Homo sapiens: one gene and its partners. The protein of the gene in region 3 interacts with the protein of the main gene of each other region in a pairwise test. Each region holds a gene or a part of one and is shown on either strand. Other genes may lie near its edges.

Evidence for each region.
Region 1: the proteins of C14orf39 (region 3) and HPGDS interact in binary tests that used the Homo sapiens proteins (3 or more experiments, as listed by UniProt).
Region 2: the proteins of C14orf39 (region 3) and MT1X interact in binary tests that used the Homo sapiens proteins (3 or more experiments, as listed by UniProt).
Region 4: the proteins of C14orf39 (region 3) and TEAD2 interact in binary tests that used the Homo sapiens proteins (3 or more experiments, as listed by UniProt).

What each region holds. Positions count from the first base shown.
Region 1 is NC_000004.12:94,339,533-94,348,255, reverse strand, and holds the start of HPGDS (hematopoietic prostaglandin D synthase), read left to right. Parts: upstream 1-5,419; 5' UTR 5,420-5,461; intron 5,462-8,723. UniProt on the Homo sapiens protein: Bifunctional enzyme which catalyzes both the conversion of PGH2 to PGD2, a prostaglandin involved in smooth muscle contraction/relaxation and a potent inhibitor of platelet aggregation, and the conjugation of glutathione with a wide range of aryl halides and organic isothiocyanates.
Region 2 is NC_000016.10:56,677,814-56,684,696, forward strand, and holds MT1X (metallothionein-1X), read left to right. Parts: upstream 1-4,656; 5' UTR 4,657-4,727; coding exon 4,728-4,755; intron 4,756-5,351; coding exon 5,352-5,417; intron 5,418-6,144; coding exon 6,145-6,236; 3' UTR 6,237-6,383; downstream 6,384-6,883. UniProt on the Homo sapiens protein: Metallothioneins have a high content of cysteine residues that bind various heavy metals; these proteins are transcriptionally regulated by both heavy metals and glucocorticoids. May be involved in FAM168A anti-apoptotic signaling.
Region 3 is NC_000014.9:60,434,940-60,441,383, forward strand, and holds the end of C14orf39 (protein SIX6OS1), read right to left. Parts: intron 2,109-6,444; coding exon 1,906-2,108; 3' UTR 1,017-1,905; downstream 1-1,016. UniProt on the Homo sapiens protein: Meiotic protein that localizes to the central element of the synaptonemal complex and is required for chromosome synapsis during meiotic recombination. Required for the appropriate processing of intermediate recombination nodules before crossover formation.
Region 4 is NC_000019.10:49,345,025-49,352,860, forward strand, and holds part of TEAD2 (transcriptional enhancer factor TEF-4), read right to left. Parts: intron 6,342-7,836; coding exon 6,277-6,341; intron 4,036-6,276; coding exon of another isoform or gene 3,933-4,035; intron 3,822-3,932; coding exon 3,679-3,821; intron 2,340-3,678; coding exon 2,166-2,339; intron 1-2,165. UniProt on the Homo sapiens protein: Transcription factor which plays a key role in the Hippo signaling pathway, a pathway involved in organ size control and tumor suppression by restricting proliferation and promoting apoptosis.

The DNA of each region.
Region 1 (8,723 bases), on a different chromosome or scaffold from region 3:
TATTCTTCCAGAAATTCTGTATGTTTGATACGAAGGCATGCAAAGCCAACTTTTTTTTTTATACTTTAAGTTCTAGGGTACATGTGCACAACGTGCAGGTTTGTTACATAGGTATACATGGGCCATGTTGGTGTGCTGCACCCATTAACTCATCATTTACATTAGGTATTTCTCCTAATGCTATCCCTCCCCCATTCCCCCACCCCACGACAGGCCCCAGTGTGTGATGTTCCCCGCTCTGTGTCCAAGTGTTCTCATTGTTCAATTCCCATCTGTGAGTGAGAACATGCAGTGTTTGGTTTTCTGTCTTTGTGATAGTTTGCTCAGAATGATGCAAAACCAACTTTCAGAATAAAATGGTGAGCAAAAACCTGCTTAGGAGAAAGAATTTAGGTCTGAAATTTGCTTGATACTTACAGTTAGGCCAAAGAAAGTTGGATAATCCTGAGAAAATGTCAGCAAATGATTGTAACTTGTTTCTTTTCTTTCACTCTAGTATTCTATATTTTGGAGTCAATCTCATGCAGTAATTAATCGCAAAGACTCTGAAGGCTGACTACTGGGTTCAAATATTGGATCTTCTGCTTGCTAGGTTTGAGACCTTGGCAAATTAAAATCTTGAGTGAGTACCAGGTACACGATAAACTCAAATGTCCGTGTTTGCTATTATTAGTCCTCTGTGGAGTCCTAGAAATTTTCTGACACCTTCTTATTCTCCAAAATTTCCTTTTTCTAGACTTCATGAGGAAAACACACCTCTTCAGATTAATCTGTTTTTGAGATATAAGAAAATTCCAAATATACAAATTCCTTTAATAGGTATATTTTGGTTGCCTCTTCTTGATAACTGCTAGGAAGACACTTTAATCTCACCAAAAAAAAAAAAATTCTCTCTAAATTACACTTTTGTTTGCATTTTCTTAGTACCTATAAATAGTAAGTCCATCCTGTGACCTGGGATTATCAGAATGGGTGGCCTTCCTTTGATCTGAGAATTTTGCCTTTCTTGCTAGACTTGGGGACAAAGGTAACTTGTGTACCTGTAACTCTCAGCCCATGAGCTCTGTGCCTTTTTGGACTTAGTTTTCATTCAATTATCATGTAAGACAGAGAAATGTCTTCAGGGGGAAAATTCTGTCATGAAATAATAGAGTAGGAAGTGACTTCAGAGGTCACCAGGACATCTCTTTTCTTTTCCAAGAACTGAGGTTCAGAGAGGAGACATGACTCTTTTGGGGAACACAGGACAGGGCACAGGCAAAGGTGGGACTTACTGCACAGTCCTTCCTCCTACAGCACAAGTTGTAATGGTACAGAGGTGACATTAATTGATTCTGAAAAAACCTTGAAAAACAAATTAACTTAATGCTTATTTTCTTCATTCTTGACAGAAGAAAAAACATAAAATCTTGTGAATGAGATTCAAATGTCTGAGAAATTTTCTATCTATAAATGCTTTCATGACAAGGCCCAGTCAGTTATGCAATTACACTCAAGGGTGCATGCACTATTTGTGATGTTGTTTTGTAGGCATTCAATGAGGTAATACAAGACAAGTGCTTGGTTCAATGCTTGGCCCACAGGAAATACTTAATGAATTTTAGCTATTTCTATTACTATTATTTGCCTACATATAGGAATCCTCTTTTAGCCAAAAGGCTAGGTAGTGAAAGATTTGCTCATAATCTTGGATATAATTACCATATCATTCTTCACAGTATCTGAAGAGGCAGACTTCAGATAATAGCATTATCATTATTGAAATCTGGGAAAACACAGACACTAAAATATTTGCAGGCATGTTTCAATTACTCAAGTAGGTTAGAAGCAGAAAAACATATTCTTTATTTCCTGTATTTTCAACCCCAGGTTTAAATACGTCACTTTTACATGTTTTTAGTTTTTCAAATAACTAACTATAAAAAGGAAAACTGTTTTATTAAATAAAATATACAAAAGTAAACCAGACCACTCTAGAATCTGAGCAAAGGAAGTTTTGTGGGCTTCTCCTGGATACTTCTCCCCTTCCCCATCAACAGACAAGCTAGAAAAGGAGAAATAGGTTTGTTTGAACACTTCTCTTTTACAAAAATAAATAAAGAGGAACAAATATGTGGGCCACGTTTTAAAAATTGTATGTGTTTTTCCATTACTTATCGAGCAACTGCTTGCTAAGCAAGGCACTAAGTGACTTAAATGCACAAACTCATTGAATCCTTTCAACTCTGAGTAGAATGATTTTTATCATCACCATTTTACAGATAAGGAAACTAAGGCAGCTGCCTAAAGTCCCAGAGCTTGCAAATAATGGAGTGGAGATTCCTCTAAGAGGTCATGATTCCAGGATGAAACTCTTTAATCACTATCTTGTATAGTCACATTACTACACAGGTGGGCAAATAAAGAAAACAAGGACAGAAATGGACTATGATTTAACGTTGGATTTTTAACAGCAGTTAGGAATTTGCTAATTCAATACCACAGGATTAAAAGTTTTCCAACTAGGAAGCCCCAGAGAAAATGAAGACATATTTATTAAATTATAATAGGCCTTTAAATGACTGTGTGGACATGATCATACAACTTGACACGTTTTTTCACGGGTATTTCTCATGCAGTCCAGTCTGGATCCACAACATGCTCCTGAAGGGTGTGTGGCATGAAGAAGTCACTGCCCTGGAGAGCAGGGAACTGAGAGGTAACAATCCATGAGGGGTTTTCACTTTGCCCTTGCCCTTTTCCTCCTCCCTATTCCAGTAGACACTTGGCTCCGTGCTCATTTCCTCAGAAGAGGATGAAGCAGGGTGAAAAATGAAAGTTGCCTGACAGCTACTTCTCTTTCTGCTGTTAGTGCCCAAACCCAACCACAGAAAAGGAAAGAATTCTTGAGCATAGATTCTTGAAGGGAAACGATTTTCCCTTCAGGTGAACTGCTAATAATATTAACAATTGCTCTCACTCATGGATCCCTAACTATGCATTAGGCACACTTTGAAGCACATATCTGTGTACTCATTTAATTCTGTAAAAGCTTATGAGAGAGTTATTACTAATATTGTTAGAATGCTCCATGAAGATTTGTTTTTGTCTGATTTTATTTAGTGCTATATCTCTATTTATTTACTTATTTATTTTTGAGATGGAGTCTCGCTCTGTCGCCAGGCTGGAGTGTAGTGGCACGCTCTCGGCTCACTGCAATCTCTGCCTCCCGGGTTCAAGCGATTCTCCTGCCTCACACTCCCGCGTAGCTGGGATTACAGGCGTGGGCCACCACACCTGGCTGATTTTTGTATTTTTAGTAGAGATGGAGTTTCACCATGTTGACCAGGATGGTCTCCATCTCCTGACCTTGTGATCCACCTGCCTCGGCCTCCCAAAGTGCTGGGATTACAGGAGTGAGCCACCGCGCCCAGCCTTATTTACTGCTATATCTCTAGCGTTCAGAACAATACCTGGCAAAGATTAGGAACAAATAAATATTTATTGTAGAATCAATCTCCATCTAAAGGTGAAGGAGCTCAGGCACAGAGAGATTAAGTTACCTGCCCAAAGGCCCACAGCTGGTAGAAGACTAGGAGAGTTAGAGCACCCCCACCTGGGCTGGGAGAAGAGACAAGAGGATGGGAAAGCTGTGCTTCCCGAGTAGAGGAGATCTGGGACCCTCTCCTGGGACCCTCTTGTGCCTCCAGGGAGGTAGAAAGACCACAGAGAAGAAGTGGCTCTGTTGGGTACTGGGCAGGTGGAATCTCAGGCAGCGTTGTGATGAAACCACCACACTGGGGCAAGAAGGTAGCAAAATGAGAATGCTACAGGAGCTGCAGAGAGCTCCTGGCGTGGAGGCCATGCACACAAGGACAATGGATGCCTCTAGAGCAGCCTCTGTTGATCGGTGACCAAGGATCAAGTGGCTGCTCCTTCCCCAATCCTTGATGTGTTACTCTGCTTTCCTCCAGCCAAAACAACTGGTCGTAAAAGATAAAATTGTAATACAAAATGAGAAAAGTGTTATTTTTTGTATACTTGATTTTTTTTTAACTGAAGCAGTCTCGTATTATATATAGGCAGCATTATGTAAGGAAAAATATTAAATGTGTCATCAGAAGGCCTAGATTTTAATCCTAGCTTGTCCCAACAAAAATTCGCAGGCAATTTACCTAATTTCCCTATGTCTCAGTTTCCTCATTTATAAAAATAGGGATTAAAAATCATTGAGGTGAGGATAAAAAGATTTTTTTGAAAATATAAGTTAAAGCTGTCAAAGATAATAAATGCATTGTGTTAATTTTGTATAGCTCCCACTCCCATCCCATTTGCACTTGATTTTGACACACATGTATCCTTTTTTGGTGGGTAAAGGGCTACACTTGCGTCTTCTCTTTTTACATACTAGTATTTACATTTATTTTCATTTCTGACGTTTATACTAAGTGGATGTAAACATATTTTTCAAAATTAAAAGCACTTTAGAAATAAGAAATATTAAATGATTGATATGTTGCTATTGTTGCCTGTGGGAGTAATTTTCTGGAAGTTGAAAGCCAGCTGGTCATTGAAATGTTTCATGGATAATCCTCAGGCTCAGTAAGGCCCAGGCAGGCATTTTATTGGATCTTTTCACTGAGCTGTCCTAATATTATAGATAAAAATAATTCCTGCACTAAGAAGTGAAACAATAAATTTCTAAAATGTCAGGCATTTGTTACTAAATTGTAAAAGGATCACAAACAAGATGAATTGGAAACTTCTACACCAGGTTTACTTTAAACACTTTGGCTTTTCTGAGAAATGAGAGTAAATGAAATAAACCAGCAACAATGCAAATTTACAGTCCTTGCAAAAACGTGAACTATAAATTAGGGTTATTCTATCATCAGATGTATATTAGTGGTCATGACATGCCTGGCACTCCTCTTAGAACTGAGGAGACAATAGTGAAAAAGACAGTGAAGTGCCTGCCTTTACAGAGCTTACATTCCACTGGGAGAAACCAAAAACAAACAAGTTAAATACACCACATTGTTAGACACTGCCTCGAAGGAACATACAGCAGGTACAGGAGAGACTGTTTCTAAAATAGAGAAGCAAGTCATGTGCACATCTGCAAAGATGATTTCATTACATTCAGGTTTTCTTATTCTCCAGGAGCCTATGGTGTAAAACTGAAAATAAGTGAACATGTAACAGTGGGCATACATATGCAGCTATAACTTTGACTTTACCTTGTATACAAATGTGTTGGTTTATTTATACCCAGATATCCTGTATAACCAGCAGTCTTCGCAGGCTTGAACTGCCTGGCATGCATGTTTTATCTAAGAAAAGAAGGAAGAGCGTTAGGTAGAAGGAAGTTGCCTGTCCTCTCACTGGCTCGTGATTATCACTTACTCGTCATATAAACCCAAGGCACAGTCACATACCCAGGGATACAAGACACTGCAGACTCCCGAGAGACATAACACAGGTAAGTCATATTACTGAACTCCACATAGGTAATAAATGAGATATGCTTTACTCTTTACTTCAGAGTTTTTATTATTCTCATATCCTGTTTGTGACTAACTGTCTTGTGAGCTATTTTCATGATGGTGCTCACTCTGACCTTGTCTTACCCAGAACCTCTCCATATATGCGAATATGTGAAACTCAAATAGTCATTTTTAAGGAAATATAGGTACAGGAGATTTAAGAAGATCTCTTCAAGTGGATTTTAACATAGAAAATATAATCAATGCTAGAGGAAAAATCCTGTCTTAATCAGGGTTTGTTACTACTTCCAGAATTTTCCCAAGTGATTCTTCAATAACTTGGATTGATGGAGTAGAGAATATTATCTCATGGCTGTTCAATTTCTTTCCTTTGCTTTAAAGTTTAAGACTTTTACTGGTAATATTTTATATTATTTTAAGGCACATTTTGTTGAAGCATCTCCATGTTTTGATAAGAATTGCAACCTATCATCTTTTGGCTTCAGAGATGGTTTAAGGGATTTACCCCAGGCCAGGAATTTCAACTCACAGCTCCCAAAGGATATTTCAGTTATTCCTCTTGCTTTGGCTTTAATGTGAAACAGTCACTTAAAATGACATTTAGTTGATATTTGATAAAAAAAAAAAAAATAGAGCTTTCAGCTTGCTAATTCAAAGTTAAACATCCAGTGCTTGATTGAAATCAATATCTTACTCAGTCAACAACAATTCTTCTATTTCTCTATTGTCCTATAATTTAACTCCAACCTGGCAACTTTTCCAGAATTGAACTTGAAATGCCCAGGGACACTGTGAAATGAGGGAAATTAACATTCTTTACCATCAAATGTTAGGGGTAATAAAAAGCTGTTTTAATGTCAGTATATGCAAGAAGTTCCCCTGTGAACAATAGTATCTCACATGATTGCTGTCTGAATCCAATTTTTACATTTCAGAACACCAGGGTCTATATAATAGGAGTGTAAACATGCTCTAGGCCATTACATTTTGTATAAGTTTATTACTGGGCAAGTTAAGATCTGCATCTTAAACTCAAAGAAGAGCTATAGCAAATTCACAAGTAATCTTTGTTTTTATATCTCTAACTCAGATTATTGCGCAATTACTAAGCATGTAAAAAACTGTGTCTGGAATGCCCAAATATGTTTGAATTCTTGATGTGTCGTATTTAAGAGTAAGAGCTTACGTTGGCTAACATTTTGTATTGAACTGTAGAATGGTCAATACTTAATTCCTCATTTGTAAGTTTTCTATCTAACAAAATTATTCCAAAAGTTCTCTTTTTTGAACTAAAAATATTTCGGCTGAAGTCTTTATTAAGATGTTTAGTATAGGCATTGGATATTGATTAGCCTGTGTTGTCAGAGAGTTGAAATTGGATTGTTGTCATCTTTCTGGCACAGAGACTAGAATTTTTGAGACTATTTTTTACTGTGCTTTTACAGCAGTATACGGAATAATATATTGTTAAATTGTTTTATTATAAAAGTTTGTAATTTTTTCAATGATTATGTTAAAATTGCCTCTGGGATTGAATTAATCAGATGAAATAAATCAGCATTGTATTAGTTAGTTTTCACGCTGCTGATTAAGACATACCTGAGACTGGGTAATTTATAAAGAAAAAAAAGTTTGGCCGGGCGAGGTGGCTCAGCCTGTAATCCCAACATTTTGGGAGGCCGAGGCTGGCGGATCACCTGAGGTTAGGAGGTCCTGGCCAACATGGCGAAACCACGTCTCTACTAAAAATACAAAAATTAGCTGGGCGCGGTGGTGGGCGTCTGTAATCCCAGCTACTGGGGAGGCTGAGGCAGGGAGAATCGCTTGAACCCGGGAGGCGGATGCTGCAGTGAGCCGAGATTGCGCCACTGCACTCCAGCCTGGGCGACAGAGCAAGACTCCGTCTCAAAAAAAAAAAAAGAAAGAAAAAAAAAAAGAAAAAAATTTGCCGGGCGTGGTGGTTGGTGCCTGTAATCCCAGCTACTCTGGTGGCTGCGGCAGGAGAATCGCTTGAACCCGGGAGGCAGAGGCTGCGGTGAGACGAGATCACGCCATTGCACTCCAGGCTGGGCGACAAGAGTAAAACTCCGTCTCAAAAAAAAAAAAAAAAAAAAAAAAAGGGAGGGGGGCGGGCCGGGCCCGGTGGCTCACCCCTGTAAACCCAGCACTTTGGGAGGCTGAGGCAGGCGGATCACGAGGTCAGGAGATCGAGACCACCCCGGCTAACACGGGGAAACCCCATCTCTATTAAATATACAAAAAAATTAGCTGGGCGTGGTGGCGCGTGCCTGTAGTCCCAGCTACTCGGGAAGCTGAGGCAGGAGAATGGCGTGAACCCGGGAGGTGGAGCTTGCAGTGAGTGGAGATCACGCCACTGCACTCCAGCCTGGGCGACAGAGAGAGACTCCGTCTCAAAAAAAAAAAAAAAAAAAAAAAAAAAAAAAAAAAAAAAAAAAAAGAGAAAGAAAGAAAGAAAGAAAGAAAGAAAGAAAGAAAGAAAGAAAGAAAGGTTTAGACCAGGCACAGTGGCTCACACCTGTAATCCCAGCACTTTGGGAGGCCCAGGCAGGCGGATCACAAGGTCAGATGATCGAGACCATCCTGGCCAACATGGTGAAACCCCATCTCCACTAAAAAATAAAATACAAAAATTAGCTGTATGTGGTGGCGCACACCTATAATCCTAGCTACTTGGGAGACTGAGGCAGGATAATCGCTTGAACCCAGGAGGCGGAGATTTCAGTGAGCCCAGATTGCGCCACTGCACTGCAGTTCCACATGGCTGGGGAGACCTCACCATCATAGCGGAAGAGGAAGGGATGTCTTACATGGCAGCAGGCAAGACAGAACCAGAGCCAAGTTAAAGGGGAAATCCCTTATAAAATGATCAGATCTCGTGAGACTTATTTACTACCATGAAGTCAGTATGGGGGAAACCGCCCCCATGATTCAATTATCTCCCACCGGGTCCCTCCCATGACAAGTGGGAATTATGGGAGCTACAATTCAAGATGAGATTCTGGTGGGGATATAGCCAAACCATAACAAGCATTCTATAAAGTAAAAAAAAGCTACAAGAAAGAAAGAGAAAGAAAGGAAGTACCCAAGATAGTACTTTAAAAACACTGTTATTTCCCATATAAAAGAGCTTATTTCCTAATGCATATATTAATATTAAAAGTTAAATCTTCTGCAGTGGATAGCTATGTTCATATGAGTTTATATGTCTAAGTTTTT
Region 2 (6,883 bases), on a different chromosome or scaffold from region 3:
CATTAGTACATTTGGGTTTCTAAAAATAAAATATGTTAATGATAATAAAAGTTGACTTTATTCTGGCTCAGTTTTGTTTTGTGTGCCTTGGAAAAAAGTGATCTGATACCCAACAGAGCTGGGATAAGCAATTGCATTGAGAGTCCAGACACATGGGTGCTGGTACCACGTCCTATCACCTTACACACTGAGTGCCTTAAGACAAATCACATTACCTGTCTCTGCTAAAAAATGTAAAAGCATTATACATGTAGGCCGGGCATGGTGGCTCACACCTGTAATTGCAGTACTTTGGCAGGCCAAGGTGGGCAGATTACAAAAGGCCAGAAGTTCAAGACCAGCCTGGCCAACGTGATGAAACCCCCATCTCTACTAAAAATACAAAAATTAGCCACGAGTGGCGTCGGGTGCCTGTAATCCCAGCTATTTGGGAGGCTGAAGAAGGAGAATCACTTGAACCCGGGAAGTTGTGGTTGCAATGAGCCGAGATTGCACCACTGCACTCCTGCCTGGGTAACAAGAGGGAAACTCCATTTCAAAAAAAAACCAAAAAAACAGTATACATGTAAGAGATATAATGGCATAGGCGTGGGCATCTGTAACAGACCTAAGCTTTGGGAAAATGAACTAAAATGAATTAGTATGAAATATAAAAACAAAATCTACTTTTTAATATTAAACAGGCAAATTATTAATAAATATAAATATATGAAAACAAAAAAATACATACAAAAAACAATGTATGAAAAACAAAATATATGACTATATTTAAATATATTAAAAAACAGAAAAATAAAAATTTACAGACATTGCATATATGTTCTAGGTTGCGTATTTCAGACTGGGAACAGTTTGTAGACTAACCCTCATGCGTGGATCACACACCTTCAGCAGTGCTGGCCTGGACATGTCCAAAAGGAACTATCAGTCCTGAACGGCACCATGTCACTCATGGAACTCTCGCTACCCCTGAGAGCTCCTTGTTCTGACTTGGCTCTGAATCTTTGGAAGTTTCTCCCAAGGTCAGGCTGCAGTCTCCTTCAAATTCCAGCCCTTGGTTACTTCAGGCCAGTGCAGTGAATAGGCAGGTGGAGCGAAGTGTCCAGCATCGTCCTGGCAAGCTGACTATAGATAGCAACTGGGGTTCCCAGGTGAAGTATTTTGACTCCGCCTCTGCAGGGGTGATGGCATATTCTGTACTTTGAAGGTGTGTGGTGTTCATTGAGAAGGATGAGGACTGATCATTGCTACCAACAGCTGGTACCTCCAGCTATCTGCTCAGGGAATTGTTATTCGAGGTTCAATCACAGGGAAGATGAGACAAGTGACCCAGGAGTCAAGACCTAGATGGGCTGCAGGTGCTCTTTGTGATGAGGGAATTTCAGAAGGTAGCCTGGGCCAAGTGCAGGCTTTGGTGTCAAACAACCGGGTTCACAGCCCACTTCACTCCTGACTGGCTGTGTGGCCTGCACAAGTCACTTAACCTCTCTGAGCCTCCATTTCCTCATCTGTATACAGGAGATTATATTTCCATGTAGGGATCAAATGGGACAGTGGCCTGGTACTAGTGGCCTAGGGCTTACTGAACAGTGCTATTATAATCATTTGTCCATGTGGACTTTCTAGACAGACAATCCTATTAGCTCCCATCAAGCTCCTTGGAAAAGGCCCATCTGCCTGCGGGTATTATGTGGACTGGAAGTTGGAGATGGATTTGGAGTCTTGCTGTTCTGGTCTCAAGGGCATGTGGATGACCTCCTGCACCTGCTCTCCAGGATAAGACACTGCTCCAGCATTCAGACAGAGAACAAGCCTTTCCCACCTTTCAAGTCATTTGATCTTCACACAAACCAGACACACAGTGAATGTGAAGGGTTTGGTGAGATGGTGCTGTCTTCTAGAGGAGTTGTACTGTCTTCTAAAGGAGTTAAGCAATCTTCCCAAGGTCACATAGTTTAGAAGTAAAGGCATGAATGAATCTATGCTGTGGGTGTCCTCATGCCCTCGCCATAGTGAAATATCACGCTGTCAATGGATGCTAAGCCCGGCCTCTCACATTCCAGAGCTGGAAGGGCCCATGGTTAGTTAGCCCAATTGTGACCCTGACTTGATAGCTGGTGAACTGAAGCCAGAGAGGACACACAGCTATTCAGAGGCTCTGACTGCCAGCTCAGTGCTCTTACCACTGTGCCTCTGTGCCAGAGTTAGTGTCCTCATGTGTCACACGACAGGGTGACACAGGCTTGTGGTTGAGGGCATTATTCTATGGTCAGCCTGTGTGAGTGCCAATCCCGGATGTGTCATCATGTATACCTGGGTGACACAACCTCTCTGTGGCTCAGTTCCTGCACTGTAAAAGGGGCAGAATATAATAATACATCATGTGCTGTATAAGGACGTTTTAGTTATAGATGCACTGCATATAGCATAGTGGTCCTATAAGGTTATAAGGTAACTGTACTCTACCTTTCTATGTTTAGCTATGTTTAGATACACAAATACCACTGTGTTATCATTGCCTTCAGTATTCAGTACAGTAGCATGCTGTACAGGTTTGAAGCCTAGGAGCAATAGGCCATATCACATAGCCTAGGTCTGTGGTAGGCCATAATATCTAGGTTTGTTATTGTACTCTTTACACTGTTTGCACAACATGAAATCACCCAACAATGCATTTCTTAGAATGTATTCCCATCACTAAGCAGCATATGACTGTAATGGGGTCTGACTTGTAGAAATAAATGATTTAATAGGTATAAAGAAATTAGAATGGTGCCTTGCACATGGCAAATGATCTATAATATTAACTATTATTTTGTTATTTTTATTCATGGCTGCTATGGTCTAAATGCTCGTATGCCTCCAATATTCATATGTGCAAATCTAATTTTCAGTGTGTTGGTACTGAGGTGGTGCATTTGGGAGGTGACTGAAATAAGAGGACCTAGTGCTCATGAATGGGATTAGTGCCTTAATTAGAGAGGCCTGAGGGAGCTTGTTTAACTCTTTCCACCATGTGAGGACCCAGCAAGAAAGAGACATCCGTGAGGAACGGGGCCCTCACAAGACTCCAAATATGCTGGTGCCTTGACCTTGGACTTCCATGCTTCCAGAACTGAGAGAAATATATTTTGCTGTTTTAAGTTACCCAGTCTAAGGCATCTGGTGATAGCAGCCCAAATGGACTCAGACGATAGCATAGTTGACATTTTTACTCCAGACAAAAGAGCCAGGCCTGGAGTCCCTCCCTGTGTGTCCTCTGTCTTTCTCATCAGCCACATGAGCATTGACCTGTGGTCCTGACAGTGTCCTGCACTCTGCCCACAAAATAGGGATTCACTCCAGAAATATAAAGCCATGAGCAAGATAGTCCCTGTCCCCATCACAGAAACGGAAGGATACCTGCCAGTTCTGCTACCACCTGCACCAATATGTGACTTAACGTTTTTCTTTCAAATGATTCCTATTTCCTTAGATATTTTTATATGAAAAGCAAACTCATTAGCACCACTGAAAAAAGAATCAGTTTAACTTCCAGACATAGAAGGTTGCCATCAAATTATGCTTATTCATATCCCCTCTGCATCTCTGTTTTGCTTCCAGGACTGACCTTGATGCTTGGTTTTGTTTAAAGATTTCAAGCAGTAAAGAGATGAATATATCTAGGCCAAAGGGAAGCTTCATCATTGCTTTGGGACGCTGACCGGATTCAGACCCAGCAGTGTCACTTCGCAGCCCTCTGACCCTGGGCTGGTGGCTTGAACTCCTTTTATTGTTGTTGTTCAGATTAGAATATGGGTTCATGAATAGAAGTATGTCCCTTTAGGGTTGCTGTGAGGGTTCAACGATGCAAAGTGACTAAAAAGGGCCTAACACGGATTAATGTTATGTAGAGTAATAGGAATATGGAAGGAAAAATAACCCTGTTTCTTGCATTTTAATTTAATCCGGAATCCGCATATCACCTAAAATGATCCCTTTTCTGGGAGCATTCCACATTTTCCAAACTGTCATCCTGTGGTGGGGTGCCCGGCTAGGCTATGGGGAGACCTGGAGAGTTTTATGCAAAGGAGGACCTGGGCAAATGTGCCCATTCAGCCTCTCAAGAGTGGAGAATGCAAGGACGGGGGCAGAGCCCTGTGTCTGTTCTGTCCCTAGACATAAGAGAAACGTGGCCAACAGACCGAGGTGGGGACGGGGACAGGGACCGGCAATGCAGGAAATCCGAGTGTCACATCCTCTGCCTCTCATTTGCACACTGCTCCCTCGCTATGCTCACCGCTCCCGCCGATCCAGGGACGTGATCCAGGGACTCTGGGAAATGCAAAGCTACACACAGTGGAGCGGGGGCTGGGGGTGTGTAGACCGCCGGGATTCCGAGTTTCCCGGCACGCCTAGGAGAGGGAGAGGCAGGCAATGTCAGGGAAATTGGGCAGGCAAGACGCCAGGGACGCCACGTACTGCCAGGTTCTCAACGAGGTGGAGCCAAAGGGGCAGGCCCCGCGGTGCGCCCGGCGCTGGGCTCACGGGTTGCTGCACCCGGCCCAGGATCGCGGGCGGTGCAGACTCAGCAGGGGCGGGTGCAAGGACGAGGCGGGGCCTCTGCGCCCGGCCCTCTTCCCGGACTATAAAGAGAGCCGCCGGCTTCTGGGCTCCACCACGCTTTTCATCTGTCCCGCTGCGTGTTTTCCTCTTGATCGGGAACTCCTGCTTCTCCTTGCCTCGAAATGGACCCCAACTGCTCCTGCTCGCCTGGTAAGGGACACCTAGCTCCGCGCCTTGGGATGCCCGTTTCCCAGCCACAGTACAGACTCTTCCTGGGTTTGAAGAAGTCGCATTTAAAGTTCTGAGCTGAAGGGGCTCCTTTATTTCGTTAGGTGCTTTCTTCCCGATCACGTCCCTGAGACCACTTCTCGCCTCCCTGTGCCTCTAAGTTAGAGTTGAGGGTACTGAGGCCCAAGGCTGTCCTGCTCCATGTCACCCAGTTGGTCAGGGGGCTGCTGGCTGAGCCCCAATGCTCTGACCAGGCTCTGAGCAGTCAGGGTGGATGGGAAGTGGGGGGCCATTGCCTCTTCGGAGTTCAGGACAGAAGGTTCTGGCCTCCTGTCTTAGCCTTCCTGGGCTGTGTCTGGAGCCTGGGACCTTGCTTGTGGGGTAAAAGCAACAGAACACTTGCCCTTCCCAAAATGAAGGGAGAGGAGATGGGGCTTCTCTTCCTCTCCCCTGAGTGGGAAAGGAGCTCTGGGGGCTGGTCCTTCAGCACAGAGGAGGGGTCACTGAAGCGTTATTGACCAGCTGCTGTACCTTCTGCATCTCACTCCACGCTCACTGCCTTTTTCTCTTCCTTGCAGTTGGCTCCTGTGCCTGTGCCGGCTCCTGCAAATGCAAAGAGTGCAAATGCACCTCCTGCAAGAAGAGTGAGTGCAGGGCCTTCCCTGCGAATCTGGGGGATGGGCCAAGTTAGAGCAGGGAACCCAGAGCTCTGCAGGCAGGGGCAGGCCAATGACCAGCTTCCCCAAACCCCTCCTTCAACACCTGATTCAGAATCAGACCTCAAATTGCCTTAAAAATGGGTGAGTCCCAGCCTCTTATTACCAAACTAGAAACTGAGGCCCAGAGAGGTTACCAGATAGTGTTGGGAACAAAGCTGGAATGTGAACCTAGGTCTCCTGCCTCCTGATGCAGCCTTCTTCACCCTTCTGGGTCCTGAAGCACTTAAGGCCCAGGATCTGGAAGACCCCGGGTGATTTCAAACCTAATGATCCAGTCCTTTCCTGCAGGGGTAGCCCAGAGCTTCCCTAGCCTTCCCCAGAACTGCTGTGTCAGGGATTTGCCCCCTGTCCGGCTGTGAAGACTTTCCTCATTTAAGGGTAGGTTTTGGGGAACTGGCCTCCTTTTGTTCCTGTACCCCCAATCACTACCTGTCCAGTCTTCTGTCCTGTCCCAGACTCAGGTGGGGCTGGGCAGCTTTTTCATATAAAACCCTCATCCCAAAGATCTACCAGTTCTCTTCTGACAAAGCCATGCCATCCTGAAATGATGGTCCTCTGGGGCTGGAGGCAGGGCTCGAGCCAGGCCTCTGTTGGGGCAGGGAGGTGCCTGATTGAGTCTGCTCTGACCTCTCACTCTCCCCTTCTTCTCCAGGCTGCTGCTCCTGCTGCCCTGTGGGCTGTGCCAAGTGTGCCCAGGGCTGCATCTGCAAAGGGACGTCAGACAAGTGCAGCTGCTGTGCCTGATGCCAGGACAGCTGTGCTCTCAGATGTAAATAGAGCAACCTATATAAACCTGGATTTTTTTTTTTTTTTTTTTTGTACAACCCTGACCCGTTTGCTACATCTTTTTTTCTATGAAATATGTGAATGGCAATAAATTCATCTAGACTATTCTGGCTCTGGGCACCTCATTTGTCACTGGGTATATGGCACTTGGTTCCAGTTGGATTGTAGGAAACCCAGATTGTGGGGCATTTCAGAGAGGGGACCATGGCAGTGGGGGTCTGGGTGCAAGGTTCCTGCAATCCTGCCTGGCCTTGGCTCTCCTTTGTGAACTATGGCAAACTAGGGGGTTTATTCTACCACCCTCTAGCAACGGTTAACTGGTAGTAGCTGCCCTTTTTGTGTAGCTGTGACACAGCCTATACTCACCAGCCACCTATGGTGCACCTACTGCATACACAGGCATGGGGTCCTCAGTGGTGAGGGGAACAGGGAGCTTATGGACTGCTGGGGGGAGAGAGAATTATAGAATAAGGAATCTTATAAAGGAGAAAGTACTGTGACTGAATGCACTTGGGGTGAGCCCAAATGAAGAACTCTTTCCACTGGGATCTGAGAGCTGCATTCCTGCAGAGGGCACAGCTCCAGCAAAGGTCTGGAAGTGGGGA
Region 3 (6,444 bases):
AATATAGATAATATATTATAGCTATAATATATTATAGTTATAGATATTATATTATAGTTATAATATAGTTATTATATTATAGTTATAGTTATTATAATGTGCTTTTGTTATTTCCTAAGTTTTGTCTACCCAACCAAGTTATAAGTTCCTTGAGTATAAGACCACGTCTGTGTTCTAGCCTTTTATATGCTGTCAAAATGCCATGTGCAAGGTAGATACTTTTAAAATACTTATTTCATATCACTTATTGATACATGATAAATCTAACCATACTGGTCTGCTAGACATTACTCTAAAGTAAAAATAAATCATGGAATCACTGAATCATTCAAGGCTAAAACTAGTTTTGAATTTATCAATAAACAAACAAATTATAACTTTTTCTTCTGTCTCATATATAGCCAATGTCTTTATTATATAAAAACTACCAATCAATTCAGTCATAGAGTCAATAAGATAAATACCTGTTAAAAAACGAAAAAAAAAATCCAGCTTTTTAACTGAAATTTTCACCTTTTAAGCAGTTGTTGAATGTTTGATGGTTTTTTTTTTAACAGAGTCTAAAATTTTCTTAAACTCTATCATTAGTTAGATTGCCCTTCTTTTTAAGTCTTCGAGACAGCTTAATGTAATACAACTGTGATAATTTGTAGACACCCTGAAGAAGCAGTATAGACCCTTACCCAAAATTTGATTTGCATATTGAAACTGATGATGCCACACATCCCAATAGGGCATGAAAAGATTTTTCTAGTCATATATTAAGGCCTTCTGGGGAGAGCGGGGCAGGCCTCCTGAACTGAAAAATAGCTTGAGAAGTAGAGAAAGAAGACTGGCTTTGGGTTTTTATGGTAGTTAGGGGGTGGGCTGGGTGGGGGCTCCCATATGTGGTTTGAACTTCCTACTGGCACCAAAGGAGGGAGCAACCAGGCTTTCTGATCAGCTTGGCCAAATGTGGGCAGAATGAGAAAAGAAGGGGTTAGGTTTAAAAATCCATCAACAGTCACATCAAAATATGGAGTCAAACCCTTTATTACTTGGTAACTCAGTACAGCTAATTTACAAAGCACAAAATACAATGATATTGAGCAAAATGTTTACAGAAGTTCATCAAATCTTAAATATCTTCACTTAAGCTATATAATTAATTGACAAATACTGAACACAAAACATAAAGAAGAAATTTTTGTTATTGAAGGAGACAAAATTGTAAATGTTCTTCAAAAAATATTTAAGCAAAAAAGAATATTAACAGGATCACCACTGATACAACAATCCAATTTTCAGAAATTACTCTTGCCCTTTACATTTAATTTTTAGCCATTGAAAGCATTAGCATAACTCATAAAATTAGAATTGTACCATGTGTTATATTAGAAGAAAATAACACAGATTTTGTTATTAACATAAATTATTTGAAATTATTATTACAGTACCACTCTGTATACTACATAGTGAAGCAGAAGTGAAACCCAATAATTTTAATAGAAATTTTTAGTAGCTAAAGTACGCTTCAGCACTAACTCTGGAGTTACTACTGCAGTTCTTGTTCTTATCAAAGTACCAACAATACTTCCAGAAAAAAACCTTAGGTTCCAAGGAGAAGCAGGCTTAATATTTAAATAAAGAGTAATGAAAAAAGCATCAAATTCTATTAAGATTAATAAAAGTTCTACCTGACCACGGCTCGCAAAATCAAAACCAAAATAAATAATGATTAGTTAATAGCACACACAAAACCCAAAATATTCAGTATTTCAATATTTCAATAAATATAATCAAATAATGTAAACATTACTGCTTTAATCAATAAAAGAAAGCAGTCTTCATGTTTTAAGCAATAATGTAAATTTATGCCCTCATGAACACAGAACAGTAAAATAATTTAAGGAATTAATGACTAGCTCAAAAAAAAGTAAACTGTGTTGTATTTTGTGAGGAAGATGAAAAACCTTTTAAAGAAGAAGAAGGTATTGAATTTTGACCCTGTCCAAATGAAAATGGAAAACTAAAATCATCTTTTCCAGCTCCAAATGTATGAGTTGAAGTGTCTGATGGAAAAGAAAATGTAAAGCCATCTTCTCCTTCTGGCTTCTCAAGTAAGTTTCCTAAGGAAGATAAACATTACAATATCATGCTCTTCATATTATATAAAATTTTTATAACCTACTGAATTATAGCATACTGCATACAATAAATATGGTAACACTGAATCAGTGTTACACAGGAATACAGGTATTTAATTGTATTCCTCTTAAGTGCAAGGCATTGTCCTTGGTACTATGAAGGTTAAAACAGACTCAAACTTAAACCCTGTTTTCAAGTAATTTGAACTCTAGTATATAAAGAACTAGTATAAAAAGTAAAAAGTAGAATAAAACACCTCAAATGAAGAGACTGATACAGAGGCACAGAAACAGACATGCATAGGATGCATTAGAGTAACAGAAATCTATTCAGCTTAGCAGGAGCAGTGAGAAATAATAAAGATGTATTAAGTGGAAATTAATGAAGATGAGCTTGGAAAGATTGCTGAATATCCCACTATGGAATCTGGACTTTATTTAGTAGATAACAAGAATTCATTGAAGATTTTCAAGCAGAGATATGACATGATTTGAACTGCTTTGTAAGTATTACTCAGGAGAGAATAGGTATAAAGGCTGGAACAGGAGAGTCTAGAAGTGGGACTAACCAAAATAAAATAAAAGTCTATTGTCCAGTGAAGACATAATGAAATGTTGACCTTAGGTACAATCATAGTGATGGTAATGGAGGAAAAAATGCTGAATCTAAGAGATACTGTATAAGTTAAACTTATTCAACTATTATTTATTGAGTCACTACAATATACTGCTCATGGCATTGTTCAAGGAAACTGACAGAACATTAAAAAGAGTTCTAAAAGGAATTTTTAAAATAAGCTTTAAATGTAGCTCTGGTTGATGAAGCCCAGAATTGCCATTAAGGAAAAATACTGTTTTTCACTTATTATATTACTTATTAATAAAATTATAAATATACAAATATATTTTCAACATCCTAATTCTAATTTAAAATTAATTATCATTAAATAATTTTAAGTCTATAGTAATCAAATATGTACTTGAAACAAGTCTTTTTAAATATCTATTTTTATATAGAATTAATCAAATAGCATATTAAGCAAAATAATTTGCATCACTTTGAATGTTTCATAAATTTTTTAACTTTCATATATTTAATAACTTTATTTTTATTTTTAAACATCTCAATTATTTCACCCTAAATAGAACCAAGTCAACCAGCAGTAAGATGGGTGGATGGATGGATGGACAGACAGATGGATAGATGGACAGACTGACTACCAGATACTTGTGTTCTTCCCCTCTCCCTTTCTCACTTTATTTTTTTGACTATGTGTATTTCTCAGTACACAGCCATATGACTTAAAGAAAAATAGGTATAATGTAAACACGGATCCAAAAAGAGCTAAAATCTTGAATTTCCCTTTGAATAAATGAATTTGATTTTGTTTTTAATTTCACAAGAAGTTCATATGAAGTCTTCATAAAACTCATATGATCACTGTAAATAAAAGAACACATTACTGTGCAAGGCAGCATTATAGGTGCTATGGGGAATTCAAAGGTACATTTTAAAATCCTTGTCCTCAAAAAACCTGTGATCTAGAGGAGATTTTATATCTATTTATAAATAATGATGGTAGAATGGTAAAAAGTATAAAAAAGAAGAGATATTCAGAAAAGAGAGGGAGAGATCTTTTTGAAAAAGAAGATTGAGGGGATAAATAAAAGGTTTTATGGAAGAGAATTCTATCTCGAAAGATAGAAAGAGATAGAAGTTGGGGATTGCAAGAAGTAAAAAGCAGGTAAGAAAGTGTGGGCATACTTGAGACACACTGAGTTCCAGAGTCTGGCCAAAGCACAGGTTACCCTTATAAGATAAAAGCCTTAAAAGGTATGTTGGGGGATGAATAGAGACTGGTTAATGAGTATAAAAATACAGTTAGACAGAAGGAATAAGTTCTAGTACGGAATTTAAGAATAAGTTCTAGAGTAGTAGTATGGTTTACAAGAATTTATAGTGTATTTTGACATAGCTAGAAAAGAAGATTTGGAATATTCCCCACACAAAGAAATGATAAACGTCTGAGGTGATGGATATTCCAATTACCCTGATTTGATCATTACACATTGTATGCAGGTATCAAAATATCACATGGACCCCATAAATATGTACAACTATATACCAATAAAAAATGAAACAGGTAGTTGGAGCTAAATTAGAAAAGTAGAAGCATAATTTGATAGTCAGTGGGGGAGTCACTGAAGGTAACTGATTAGGGCAGTGACATGGCCAACATTATGGGCACTGAAGATTAATTAAGCTGTGATCTATAGGTAAGCTGAAAAATGGAAAACACCAATTAGGATGATATTGTAACAGTCCAGGTGAACAGTAAGACTGAAATATAATGGTTTCAATGAAAATAGAAAATAAAAATAAATATTTAAGAGAGAGAACTGATAAAACTTAATGACTAGTTGAATGTAGTCACAGTCACAGAGAGAAGTTAAAATTGTTACCATGCTCCAAACCTTAAAAGCCAGAATAATGGAGATACCATCAGGGACGTCAGAAGGAGAGCAAGTTTCATTTCAGCTACACTGAGTTTTTAATGTCAAAAGATGTCTAAAGAGATTTAAACTGTACAATCAGAAATAAGGTCCTAGAGTTTAGAAGTCAGTGCAGCAAGATATAAATTTGTTCATTATCTGTATGTATTATATTTGAAAACACTGAAGTGAATGAGTGTCAAATGAATGAGAATGTCAAAAAAGAGGATGTGGGCTGGGTACGGTGGCTCACGCCTGTGATCCCAGCACTTTGGGAGGCCGAGGCGGGTGGATCACCTGAGGTCAGGAATTTGAGACCAGCCTGGCCAACATAGTGAGACCCCGTCTCTACTAAAAATACAAAAAATTAGCTGGGCATGGTGCTGGGCGCCTGTAATCCCAGCTACTCGGGAGGCTGAGGCAGGAGAATTGCTTGAACCCAGGAGGCGGAGGTTGCCGTGAGCCGAGATAGTGCTATTGCACTCCAGCCTGGGCAACAAGAGCGAAACTCTGTCTCAAAAAAAAAGAGGATGTAAATAGATTTAAATTTTTAGATGGCAGACATTTAATAAATACAATTGGTAGATTCATTCTGATCTCATAGCATTAAATACCATTTATAAAAATTCCAAAATCTGTGTCTCCATCTCATTGAATTCGAAATTCATATGTACAATTTCCTACTTTACTTTCACTTACGTATCTAATAAATAGGCTTTTCAATTAAAACACTTCCTAAATGAAACCCCTGTCTCCTCAATCTCAAATTACGCTTAGAGCCTTCCATATTTCTATAAATGGCAACTCCATTCCAAGTTATTCATGTCAAAACCATGGCACAATCTTTGTTTCTCTCTCTCAATCCTTATATCCAGTCCATAAGCAAATTCTTCCAGCTCTATCTTCAGAAAACTTTGTAACCAAAATCTGACATGTTCTCACCACTTCTACTACTACTACTCATCAATTCTCACTTTGTATCATTTTATAGCTTCCTGACCTTTCCCTGCTTTTGCCCTTGTTTCCATACAGTCTGTTCTCCACATAGCAGCCAGAATAATTCTTTTAAAACCTGTCAGATCATTTCAGTCCTTTACTTAAAACCTTCCAGAGGTTTCCCATTTCACTCAGAAAAAAAACCCTAAGTCCTTAATGATCTACAGGTCCCACATGATTTGCTCTCCATCCACCTCTTGGATTTAATCTCCCACCAGTCTCTCCTTCCTTATTCCATAAATCATACCAATTTAACTAATTTTCAACGAACATACTGAGTATGTTCCCATTTCAAGACCTTTTTGCCCTTTGCTTGGAACACTTTTCCCAGTAGCTTGTATATGCACCTCCTTCTGCTCAATGTTGACTTTTAGTGATGCCTTTCCTGACTCCTTGCAATACGGCAATCACCTTCCCAATCCAAGTATTCCCTATTTCCCTTACTCTACATTACTTTGCTGCATAGTATTTATCACCAACAATAAGTAAAAAATTAACATCAAGCCTGGGAAGATTCGGGCCCACCTGGAAAATGACCTTGGAGCCTGACTTCCCACAGCACTGTTTTCACAGAATTAAGGTAAACACAGAATGTTTTATCTATCTAGTCTGCTGTGTGAGACTGCACCTGAATTAGAGGAGCTATGAGTTAGCATACAGGCCTTGGGCCTCATGACTAGAATAATATAAAAGACTGGTGTGAAATTGAAGTTACAGCTCTTGTGTTTCAAGGTGACCTACATGCAACATGCCTTTTGTCCATAGCAGCCTGACATGTTCCTTGGGTGGCAGTGGCAAAAGAAGGTGTATTACTTGGGTAGTTGGTGAT
Region 4 (7,836 bases), on a different chromosome or scaffold from region 3:
GGCAAAACCAAAGACCTTACCAGCTGCTCCTCTGAACCCCTTCAGCAGCTGGGCTTCCTAAGGGGGTGGCTCTCCAGTCCTGGGACCTGATAAGGCCTGTCTTAAGCCCCAACAATGTCTAAGCCCTCAGCTGCACATCCCCAGAGCAGTTTCAGGCTTCTGCTTCACATGGCAGAAAGCTCCAGAACCGTGAACAGCAAGCTCCAGAACAACAACACTCCCAGCAAGAACAGTAAAGTTCAGGCCCTCAGCAGGCCTTTCCTTCCTTTCCTTCCTTCCTTCCTTCTTTCTTTCCTTCTTTCTTTTCTTTCCTTTCTTTCCTTCTTCCTTTCTTCCTTTCTTTCTTTCGGCAGGGTCTCATTCTGTCACCCAGGCTGGAGGGCAGTGGCACAATCTTGGCTCACTGCAGCCTCCACCTCCCAGGCTTAAGTGATCCTCCTGCCTCAGCCTCCACAGAAGCTAGGACCACAGGTGCGCACCACCACACCCAGCTAATTTTTTTCATTTTTTGTAGAGTTGAGGTCTCACTGTGTTGCCCAGGCTGGTGTCAAACTCTTGAACACAAGCGAAACTCTCGCCTCAGCTTCCCAAAGTGCTGGGAAGATAGGAGTGAACCACCACACCTAGCCAGGCTTTCTTCTCAGAGACTAGATCCCTCCACCACCTTTGTTACTATAAGAACTAGCACCCCCTAAACATCCAGGCAACATTTATTGAGCCCAGGCCAGGCACTGTGGCTCACACTTGTAATCCCAGCACTTTGGGAGGCCAAGGTGGGTGGATCACTTGAGGTCAGGAGTTCGAGACCAGACTGGCCAACATGGTAAAACCCTGTCTCTACTAAAAATACAAAAATTAGGCCAGGTGCAGTGGCTCATGCCTGTAATCCCAGCACTTGGAGAGGCCAAGGTGAGCGGATCACATGAGGTCAGGAGTTCAAGATCAGCCTGGCCAACATGACGAAACTCCGTCTCTACTAAAAATACAAAAATTAGCTGGGCATGGTCGTGCATGCCTGTAATCCCAGCTACTTGGGAGGCTGAGGCTGGAGAATCGCTTGAACCCAGGAGGCAGAGGTTGCAGTGAGCCGAGATCGCACCATTGCACTCCAGCCTGGGCAACAAGAGCAAAATTCCATCTCAAAAAAAAAAAAAAAAAAAACAATAAAAGAAAATAAAACACATTTATTGAACCCCTGTAGTGTTAGTCATCATACTGGACACCAAACCAAGTAGCCCTAAGAAACACGCAAGATGGGCCCTCTTAGTCCCAATCATATAAATAGCAGCTGACACCAGGCGTCTATATAGGAAGTGCTCAATAAATGATTGCTACATAAATACAGGACTTGGACGGGTGCGGTGGCTCACACCTGTAATCCCAGCACTTTGGGAGGCCAAGGTGGGCAGATCATTTGAGGCCAGGAGTTCAAGACCAGCCTGGCCAACATGGTGAAACCCCGTCTGTACTAAATATACAAAAATTAGCCAGATGTGGTGGCGGGTGCCTGTAGTCCAATCTACTGGGGAGGCTGAGGCAGGAGAATCGCTTGAATCCAGGAGGCGGAGGTTGCCGTGAGCCAAGATACAGCCACTGCACTCCAGCCTGGGTGACAGTGAGACTATGTCTCAAAAATAAATAAATAAACAAATAAATGAATACAGGACTTGGCAAAGCCACTCCATGGCTCTTTTCATCACTTCCTCAAAGCCAGACATTCTCTAGCAACAAGGTCTGGTGAAACTGATGCAAAGCATCAGTCCCCTCTTTAGAAACCAGTCTCCACAAGTCCACTGGCTACGGGGAGGGGTCTTTCCTTAGCAGCACGGCTTGGTGCAGTCAGGTGGGGCACAGGGAAGCCTGGAACATGGCAAGCCCATGCCCAGGACCCTATTAGCTACATGGCCAGGTAACTCACCGTATTAGTTACATGTGGCAATGTCTAGTGGGATCCAGGGAGGCCCAGACACCTCCAACCCACCCTGGGGGCTGGCCTCCTCGGTGTTCCTTGTTGCAAAGGGGGCTGACACTCCAAGCCATGAGGACTGACTGGTAAGTCCCAGGCTGACCTGGTAGGGCCCGCGACAGATTCTCTCAGGGCCAGAGGCCTTTGCTGGGACACCACAGGATTTGTGAGCACTTTTGATTTTGCTGTGAGAACTCACCCAGAACTTGACCAGGAAGAAGGCATGGGGGGGGCCACGATCATATAGCTCTCGGAGGCCACCCTTTTTCTCAGGGAATTTGTCGTAGATCTGCCGGACGTCCACACTCTCGAGCGGCGGCGCTCCGGGGCTGGGGCAGTGCTGGCTGATGTGCACGAACAGGTGCCTCTGGTACTGAGGAGGGTTGGCCGTGGGTGAGAAGTCGGAGGTGAGCTGGATCTCCAGCCTGTGCTGCCTGAGCCCACCAAATGCCGTCACCATCCCCACAGCTCTGGCCAGCTGTTCCACACAGTCCACCCAGCACTGGGCCTGACTGCCACCCATCGTCCCCACTCCTGCTTCTGCACCCAGTCCCCTGCAGCCCTGCAGTCCTACAGTCCCCAACTCCCTGCCACAACTCCCCCAACTCCATCCTCACTGCCTCAGCCTCACCTCAGGCCTCCCACCCTCACCCCAGCCTCCAACCTCGCCTCTCCAGTTCATCCCTCATGTGGCTCCAGACCTGCCCCTGACCCTCCCCTGGTCATGGCCCTCCCATAGCTCCCCAGCAGCCCCAGGGCAAAGCTCACACCCCCTAGGCCTGGTCCTATATAGAACAGGTGCTCATAAATGGTCAATGGATGGAAGAGTGAATGAATGGGAATCCACAGAGGTCTTGTGGTTGATGTTTTGATTGATGTTTATATGGTGTGGCAGAGACTGCTACGTGTTCACAAATCCTGGTTCCTTTACACAGTGTGAAACTACATTTCCCAGGCCGCTTTGCAGTTAGGTGTGACCACATGACTAAGTTCTGGCCAATGGGATGTGACCAGGCCTGAGAGTCGACACATCCAAGTCAGATTCCTAAAACCTCCTGCACAATCTTGACTCTCTCCCTTCCTCCATCTGCTGGCCAGATGCAGAGACTCCATCAGCAGATTCTGAAGCCTTAGAAAATGGCAGAGCCACAAAATGGAAGGAGCCTGGATCCCCAAATCACTTGAGTCCAAGGCTCCTGCTGAACCTACATTGAAATGTTACATGCAACTTATCTGGCATTCAGTCCCTAAGAGTTAGGAGCTGTTTCTTCTAACAGTCGGCCCACTCCATCCTAGCCCAGGAGAAGCTCAAGCACAGAAATAAAATCTTTTCCAAGTTCCTAGTATGCATCACAAAGCCTAGTGAACAGTAGAAACTCAAACACGTTTGATAAATGAATGAATGATGTCCTGGGGAGCTTTTCTGACCTTCCCAACTTGTCACCCTATGACCTTCCAGTTCCTTTATGCTAGTAGTTCTCAAAGTACGGTCCCCAGACCAGCTGCATCAACGCACCTGGTAGCTTATTAGAAATGCAAATTCTCAAGCCCCACATCACATCTAGCAAATCAGAAAGCAATCTCTGTTTTAAGAAGCCCTTCAGATGATTCTGATACATGCTAAAGTTTTAAAACCATGACTTTATACATTCCCTTCCTGTCACCCTCTATATTTCAAAATCCCTCAGCGACTGTACCAAAATTTCACTCACAGAATCAACTGCATCTGGCGGTTCCACGAAGGCTGAGAACTCTACCAGCTGCAACCGGGCGGTGCCCAGGCCCCGAGCCTGCCAGGCTGGGGGCGATGGGGTAGGTGGGGGCAGGGGTGAGAGGGCTTGGGGGGGCTCGTACCCTAGAGAGAGAGAAGAAAGAACAATACAAATTGCTAACATTTATGGAATATATCAGGTACTGTTGTCTCTTGCCTGCCTCCACTTAGAAGCTGAAAAAGCTAAATACTCACTTTCCCAGCCTCCCTTGCAGTTAGAAGTGGCCATGTGACACAGTCCTAGCCAATGAGACGTTAGGGGAAATCTGCTGGGGGGCTTCTGGGAAGGAGTTTCTTCCTGAATGAAAAAGACAGAACTTTGGGAGGAGAAAGCTTTTGGCCCTGGCCAAGTCCTGCTTGGGAGATTGATATGGTTTGGATATTTGTCCCCTCCAAATCTCATGTTGAAATGTGATCCCCAGCTGGGCACGGTGGCTCACACCTGTAATCCCAGCACTTTGGGAGGCCAACGCAGGTGGATCACAAGGTCAGGAGATTGAGACCGTCCTGGCTAACATGGTGAAACCCTGTCTCTACTAAAAATACAAAATATTAGCTGGGCATGGTGGCACGTGCCTGTAATCCCAGCTACTTAGGAGGCTGAGGCAGGAGAATGGCTTGAACCCAGGAGGCGGGGGTTGCAGTGAGCCGAGATTGCGCCACTGCACTCCAGACTGGGGGACAGAGCGAGACTCTGTCTCAAAAAAAAAAAAAAAAGTGTGATCCCCAAGGTTGGAGGTGGGGCCTGATGGGAAGTGCTTGGGTCATGGGGGTGGATCCCTCATGAATGTCTTGGTGCCTTCCCCATAGTAACAAGTGAATTCTCACTCTTTGAGTTGATGTGAGCTGGCTGTTTAAAGGAGCCTGGCTTCGCTCTCTTGCTCCCTCTCACCATGTGACATAGTGGCTCCCCTTCCCCTTCCACCATGGTCCTAAGCTTCCTGAGGCCCTCACCAGAAGCATAGGCTGGCAACATGCTTCCTGTACAGCCTGCAGAACTGTGAACCAAATAAACCTCTTTTCTTTATAAATCACCCAGTTTCAGGCATTCCTTTACAGCAATGCAAATGGACCAACACAGACATGATCCCTGGAGTTGCAACAGCCATCTTGGGACAATAAGACAGACATGAGAGGAACTACAGAGATTCCAGTCCTGATATTGCTAAGCCCACACGGGAACAGCCCACCTCCAGGCTTTTTGTTGCATGGATTCATAACATGAATGCTTTTACTATTTAAGGCACTTTTAATGTGGGTCTTCTGTTACTTGCAGCCAAAAGTATTCCTAATTGATAAATCTATGGAAACTAAGGGACTCCCTCTTTCACTGATGTGAGTTCTCAGGGCCATATCAGCATGGACTTCCAGAAGCCATCTTTGCTGCCAAGTAGCTGAGTCTGCCTGGGAATGAAGCCACCACAGTGGAAAGCAGATCAAAGTAATGACTGATGCCATCACTTGAGCCGCTGGATCCAGCCACGCCTGAGGCCATAATTCTGAACTGTCAGTTACTGGAACCAATAAATCAATACATTTTTCTTATTATTTTTTATTTTATTTATTTATTTATTTTGAGACAGAGTCTTGCTCTGTCGCCCAGTCTGGAGTGCAACGGTGCCACCTCGGCTCACTGCAACCTCTGCCTCCCAGGTTCAAGTGATTCTCCTGCCTCAGCCTCCCGAGTAGCTGGGATTACAGGCAAGTGCTACTGCTACCACGCCTGGCTAATTTTTGTATTTTTTAGTAGAGGTTGGGGGGGGTGGTTTCGCCATGTTGGCCAGGTTGGTCTCGAACTCCTGACCTCAGGTGATCCACCCGCCTAGGCCTCCCAAAGTGCTGGGATTACAGCTGTGAGCCACCGCACCTGCCTCTTCTTTTTTAAAATGTTGCTTCAGCTGGCTTGATTTGGATTTCTATCACTTGCAGCTGAAAGAATCTTGACTAACATACCTCCCCCATGTCTCATAAGCTAGCAAGTGGCAGAACACAAACCCAGTGTGTGGCTGCAAAGACCAAAATCTCCTAACCATCACCAGTTCCACCACTCAGCTCTCCAGCCCCTCCCGGCTCCCCCGCCCCCAACACACACACCCTGCCTCAAAGCTGGGCTTCAGTAAGAATGTATCCCCTAATTGGCCGGGTGCGGTGGCTCACACCTGTAATCCCAGCACTTTGGAAAGCCGAGGCAGGCGGATCACAATATCAAAAGATCGAGACCATCCTGGTCAACATGGTGAAACCCGATCTCTACTAAAAATACAAAAATTAGCCCGGCATGGTGGCGGGCACCTGTAATCCCAGCCACTCGGGAGGCTGAGGCAGGAGAATCACTTGAACCCAGGAGGCGGAGGTTGCAGTGAGCCGAGATCACGCCACTGCACTCCAGCCTGGCGACAGAGGGAGACTCCATCTCAAAACAAAACAAAATAAAACAAAAAAAACAATGTATCCCTCAATTGATGGAAGGTTGAAGGAAAGGCAGTAGGGGTCGAAGAGAGAGAGGGGAGACAAGGGAGGGTGGAGCGCAGGCTCTTACCTGGGAGGTCAGTAGATGGGGGAGTCAGTGACAAGGTGAACGGTGTCTGTGAGAATGGCTTCACACTGAGGGAAAAAGGAAGCCAGGGGTTAGCCAGGTAGAAAGATGCTAATGTCACCAGCAAATGTTTACTGAGAGGCCACAACAAGCAAGACCCTGTGCATTTTGTGCACAATCTCACTGAAGCCTCACAGTGCGTGAGGTAGGTAGAATGACTGCTCTTTTCATTGCACAAATGAGGACAACTGAGGTATAGAGGGGTCAACTGACCTGCCCAAAGTCACACAGTTGAGATGCAGCAGAGCTGGGACTTGAACCCAGGTCAGTCTCAGCCCGGTATCTCAGGCTCTTGATGATGACATTTTGGTATCTCTCACAAAATGTCAGAAAGAGAAGAGAAACCAGCCTGGCGTGGTGGCTCACACCTGTAATCCCAGCACTTCAGGAGGTTGAGGCGGGCAGATCACTTGAGGTCAGGAGTTCGAGACCAGCCTGGCCAACATGGTGAAATCCCATCTCTACTAAAAATACAAAAATTAGCAGAGTGTGGTGGTGCGCGCCTGTAATCCGAGCTATTCAGGGGGCTGGGCCAGGAGAACTGCTTGAACCCGGGAGGCAGATGTTGCAGTGAGCCGAGATTACGCCATTATACTCCTGGGTGACAGAGCAAGACTCCATTTCAAAAAAAAAATAAAAAGAAAGAGGAGAGAAGAGAAACCAAGTCTTGGAAGGCAGGGAGAAGACGCAGAAGACAAGGAATTTGGAGGAAGAAGAGGCTGAGGGGTTGGGAGGGTGGGAAGAAAATGACCAACACTCAGGAGATGGGACAGGAGGCCAAAGTCGGGGTGGGGAGGCAGCACTGGCCAATAGAACTTTCCAGGGATGGAAATGTTCTATTGGATGGAAATCTGTGCCATCCAATACGGTACCCAGTGCCCACATGTGGCTACTGACCACAGACCACGTGGCCACTGAGCACAAGTGTGGCTCATGGACCTGAGAAACAGAATCTTTAATTTTATTTAATTTTAATTTAAATAGCTGCATGAGGCTAGTGGCTACAGTATCAGTCACAGCCCTAGTAGCCCAAGAGATAGTGGTGAAGAGACTTAGATGTCAGAGGTCAGACCAGGCGCAGTCGCTCACGCCTGTATTCCCACCACTTTGGGAGGCCAAGGCAGGAAGATCGCTTGAGCCCAGGAGTTTGAGACCAGCCTGGGCAACACAGCAAGACCCCAGCTCTATTTTTTTTTGAGACAGAGTTTTGCTCTTGTTGCCCAGGCCGGACTGCAATGGCGTGATCTTGGCTCACCGCAACCTCCGCCTCCTGCATTCAAGCGATTCTCCTGCCTCAGCCTTCCAAGTAGCTAGGATTATTACAGGCTGTGCCACCACACCCAGCTAATTTTGTATTTTTTTAGTAGAGACGGGGTTTCACTGTGTTGGTCAGGCTGGTCTCGAACTCCTGACCTCAAATGATCCACCCACCTCGGTCTCCCAAAGTGCTGGGATTACAGGCATGAGCCACTATGCCTGGCCTCCTTTTCTTATTAATTCTTT